2 separate regions of the Homo sapiens genome follow, and region 2 is linked to region 1. A link means that fine-mapping ties the variant in region 1 to the expression of a gene that starts in the linked region. Tissue or cell type: whole blood. Region 1 holds a variant in brackets; the other region holds the start of a gene. All regions are shown on one strand. Distances are between the middles of the regions.

Region 1 (2,762 bases):
TAAGTATCTAATAAACTAACATTTTCTAGTTTGCCTTTTGGAAATGGGACAGTTTGTCATTCTTGAGCAGATATAGAATGAACATTATCTGTGGCTGATGGCAATCAGATGAATGTACTCAGAAACTCTTGTTTAATAGTTTTGACCATTAAACAGTTTTAAATTATTTTATTCATAGTTGCATGCTATTTAATTTATACTCATAATGAACTGTTGATAAATACAAGAAACATAATGAAGCTTGATGTTGAAGTATAAGTTAATGACAATAATTCAGCAAATTCATCTCAAGATGATCTTACCAAATCTTTAAGTGGCATTCAGCTAATCAAAACTCTTATGTGGCACATTAAGCGTTCTCTGTATTAAGATAGAAAATTTGTCGTGATTGTATCTAACAATGTGTTACAAAGACCTACATTTGGGTTCTAAATCAAGCATAATATCAATTTTAAGAATTTATTTATAATATAGTCAGATACACACATGTAACTTAAAGCAAATTAAGTAGCATGTCACTTGTTAAATGTAAAAATGTCTTTTTATATTATAAATTATTAAAGATAGTGTGAAAATGAATCTTTGCATATTTAATAATATAGTGATCAAATTTTAAAACTTATTTATCGTATTTTATATACAAATTAAAAAACTTTAAAAATTTCTACAGCAGCCACAAATACACACAGGCACATACACACACACACACACACACACACACACACACACACACATCTCATTGCAAAAGCCTTTTATAAGTCCATAATAATTAGAAAATAATTTGGCCATTTCCCTCCATGGGCATCAGATTATTCCTCTCTTTCATTGTGAAATGTGTTCCTCTGTCAGAGGCACTATTATGTAGGATGCCACAATGATGCATAAGAAATTTAGTATAACCACCAAAGGTGGTGCTGACAGATATTTGATGAGCAGGGAAACAAATCTAAACCCGTAATATGTCTATTCTTGAGGACGAACTGCTACCCTATTCATGATAGAGAATAATGCCATTTTCTCTTTCTCCATGTCAGGAGTTTAGCATTAAGTAACCAAGTCAGATTTGGTGAGTGGAAGTCCATGCTAGTAAGTCCATGTATATCCTCCATCACGGCCTTTAATTTATTAGTTCATTTAGCAGTGAATGTGCTGGCCAGAAAAAGAGTTGGGATCAACAACAAAATAGTTCTCCTGATGCTCTGATTATTAAGCATCTCATCTTCAGTGAGGAATTTGTATGAGATGCTATGTTCAGATATTTTCAGGCTCTAGGCTCTTTATGAATGGGCCACTCTGAAATGACAGGTAAATGGGCTGCATGAATGCTTTTGCTTTATTTATTTTTTTGAGATGGAGTCTCGCTCTGTTACCCAGATTGGACTGCAGTGGCGTCATCTCGGCTCACTGCAACCTCTGCCTCCTGGGTTCAAGTGATTATCCTGCCTCAGCTTCCTGAGTAGCTGGGATTATAGGTGCACATGACCATGCCCGGCTAATTTTTTTGTATTTCTTTAGTAGAGATGGGGTTTCACTACGTTGGCCAGGCTGGTCTCGAACTCCTGACCTTGTGATCCGCCTGCCTTGGCCTCCCAAAGTGGTGATATTACAGGCGTGAGC[T/C]ATGGTGCCCAGCCCCCTTCTTTGTTTTTGTGCAACTTACTATGTAGGCCTTACTAAAACATGGAAAGTACTTGCTACTTCTTAATGAAACCATTCCTATAAACTTTATAAAATTAATCAGGGAAGAAGGCAAGGGGGCTAGTGAAAATAAACCAAGCTTGCAGCCCATTCATCAATAATCATTATGTGAGCTTGCTCTCTGACATGCTTCCTTATAGCTATTTGGTGCCTATTGTCCTAGAATCATGTAGACCTGTTACAAGATTATAGTTACTCTTAATTGCTCTATAACTAACAACTTGAATATTATGAATTGTTGTTTTTCCTTTGAGGTGTTCTTTCAGGTCCTGCTTATTAATGAAGCTACTGACATCATTTGGTCTGAAGGACCCCCTGGGGAGCTAACTCACCAAAGAATACAATTTCCACATACTGATTATTTCATGCCCCTTACCTCTACCAATCTATGACCCCAATTTTCCAGCCTCTTGCCTTCCATGATCCCCTTAAAAGGCACAGCCAAGAACTCCTCAGGGAGATGAATTTGAAGTCTCATCTCATCTCCTTGCTTGGCCACCCTGAACTTAAACTCTTTCTCTGCTGTAAATCCTGCTGTCTCAGTGTATTGGTATGTTACTGTGAAGCAGGCATATGAACCTATTGGCCCTGTAACATTGTTTCCAGGACCTATCTGCATGACACTGTCAGTGTAGTGGACTGGTGTGAGGTCTTGAGGGATGATTAAATGGTCAAGGCCCCTGTAGATTAAATTGTTGCCAAATGGTGTTACAAAATGTAATATTGGAGAATTGATGTGAGGACATCCTTGTGTACTGGGATATGTATAAGCCTGTGTATAGCAGATCTATTTAGAGCATCCCCCAAGCCAAGAATAACTCAAGTATCAAACAGTATACATGATAAATATATTGTGAAATACATGTATAAATTACAGCTATACACTACCAAAAAATATATGAATTTCAAAGACATAATGTTGAGCCAAATAAGCCAGGCACAGAATAACATATATAATATAATTTCATTCATAAAAGGCTAAACACACGCAAAACTACTAAAGTAGAAGTTTAACGTAAAATACATAATGTAGAACTTAAATTAGTTCCAAAATGAAAGTTGAAAGG
Region 2 (2,631 bases), 340 kb after region 1:
AGGGTGATATAGTCAGAAGAGAACTGGACTTAGATCCAAGGAACTTACGTTGAAATCCAGTTCCTTAGCCATGTAACCACCAGAAAATCACTGAGTTTCAGCATCCTCAATTATAAAATGGCAATAATAATAATAATGTAATTATTGAGCGAGATCATGCCAAAGTGTCTAGGAGAGAGAATGAGACATGTATATGTGCAACAGACATGGTTATTGACTAAAACAGAGGAGAGAATGACTTGAGAGAATGCAATGAATCAGGGAAAAAAAGAAAGACAAGGCAAGGTGGAGAGGGAAAGTAGTCTGGCCAAGGAACAGATTCATGCTCATTAGAAAGCAGAAGTGATGGGACGAAGAAAATAGTGAGAGGAAAGCAATGCCCAGACATGTTGAAACACCAAGGGAACAAGAACAGAGGACTCACCTGCTAACACGCCATCTGGAGCTGCAAAAGTCCAGAGAGGATACATTAGTGTCCAGCAGTCTTCTTTATCTCCAGAGGACTAGAATCTGGGTGTGGGGATAAGATCTACATCCATGGAATTTTAAGGACCAACCGTCTTTTCAGGAATCAGAATCAGGGGAAGAAAGAGCTTCTTTCTCTCCTCTACCCTCATTTCCTTGGTAGGAAATTTGCACTCTGGAAGATGCCAGAGCAAATGCAAGGAACCAAGCTTTCAGTCTGGCTTCCTCCTTAGGTGTTGCTCAGCCCACTTGCCTCTGCTTTCTAGCTTGGCTCCACTACAGAGTCCCTGGGAAATGCCCAATAGTTTGCACATGTCCTAGAAAAAGTCACCACCCACAGTAAAGGTTCCTACCCCAGCTGCTCCCCAAATTCATTTGGGCCTCCCTGGGAGGGGTAATTGAATCTCTACTTACCGAAGAACAGTAAGGCTACACACAGTAGAGTAGGGGATTCCATGGCAGGAGCCATCTTCTTCATGGACTCCTGGTGCTTACTGTGCTGGAGAGATCTAAGGCTTCAAATATAGGCTTAAAACCAAAAAGCAGAAGGAAATGTTTTCTGTATCATATCTGGTTAACCCATCAGCTGTGCCTGGTTTTGCTTCTTTCTTTAGAGATAATATTCAGGATGGTGCCCAACTGGGCAATTTAATATTTACCCACTTACTCCACTCCCTATCCCACCTCCACATATACACCTGGAATCTGGTGAGAGAGAGGCATAGGTCTAGCACAATCACAAGCCTTTCTTAATCTGTCAATCTGTGTACAACTATTTAGTTTACAACTTAGAAAAGTGGGATGCAAGGGAGAGCAGAATAAAACAGCAGCAACTAATTACTGAATACCAAACATATGCCAGGTGTTATCCTAAATAAATCTGATATTTCATTTATTTTTCACAATAATCCTATAAAGTACATACTATCACTATCTACATTTTATAAACAGGAAAACTGAATCTTAGTGAGGTTAAGTAACTTGTTTTGGGGTGCCAACTATTAAATAACTAATTTGGGGTTCAAACACATAAAATCTAACCCCTAAGTCAAACTCTTAGTCATATGATGTACTGTTTATACATATTCAGGAGCATGGCTAGCAACTGCCAAATTCTTTTGGGATTCACCAGAGCTACCAACGCTTTTCTTGTTTAATTTCCTGCTGATCAGTTAGTGCATAAATCCACAAATTTTCATCTGATTCACTGATGATCCGCTGTCTGACCAGCGAAATTGGAAACATTTTCAGAGACTCCTCTTTCTCTACTGTGCCCTAATCTGGCTCAGAACACAGGAAGGCAGAAGTTAAACCATTACTTATGGGGATCTAGGCCATATAATTTATTTTATTTTACTTCCTAGCTTTTGTTTACTTTTAATATTATAATTTCCCAACATGATCTCCCTTTCTCCTTTAAATACACAGCAGGGGCTTTCTCCAGGATTCCTTTACTAATTCTTCTGTTTTTTTGCTCTAGGTCAAGGCTCAACCTTCTTCCAGGATCTGATATTAATGATAATACTGGAAATGAAAACTCTATTAATGTCTATAGTGGCTTGTCATTTGCAAAGATTGCTTTTAAATGAGTGTCCTATTTTATCTTTACCAAAACTCTGAAGAAGACAGGGACAGTATATTTAAACCCACTTCACATCTGAAGCACTTGAGGAACCATTCTATCATACCTTGCTCTTCCCCACAGACTGCTGAATTAAGTCTATTGAATGAAACCAGTCATTCCACATGAAGATCTAACCAAAACCTTTAGTTTTCTATGGAATTAGAAAATATAGGGCTAAAAAGGTTAATAAATAGGAATTTAAGTTTCAGATAAGAAAGATTAGGTACTGAGCCCAGGACATGCTATGTTTTAATGACAGACCTTAAAGGTAACAGCAAGTTATTTTGAAAAGTACAAGTTGTTTGTGTTTTAAGCTCTGAATTCAAATGTTCCTAATTTTTATGTGATTGAAGGTTACCTGTATAATAGGGACAATAATGGTATCCAGGTCATGGTTATATTATGAGATTTAATAAGATAAAAAAGAAGTAAAATGCATTGCACAGCATCTGACATGTGAAATATGGTCAATAAATACATTTTTTGTCTTCTTTATTATCATTATTTATTAAAGACTTATAGGAGAAATATGAATTTTGACT

Evidence for each region. PIP is the estimated chance that this variant, and not a neighbour inherited with it, causes the effect.
Region 2: it holds the start of FCER1A, and the variant in region 1 is fine-mapped to the expression of FCER1A in whole blood (TOPMed, PIP 0.96).

Annotation. Positions count from the first base shown.
Region 1 is chr1:159,643,627-159,646,388 of GRCh38, reverse strand. No RefSeq gene overlaps it. Among named protein-coding and RNA genes, the nearest start is that of APCS, 57 kb to the right of the region's middle. The variant T/C (reference allele first, on the strand shown) is at 1,618.
Region 2 is chr1:159,300,668-159,303,298 of GRCh38, reverse strand. It overlaps FCER1A (Fc epsilon receptor Ia), which reads right to left and starts at 963. Exons shown (of 5, transcript NM_001387280.1): 1 at 880-963; 2 at 425-445. The coding sequence starts at 934.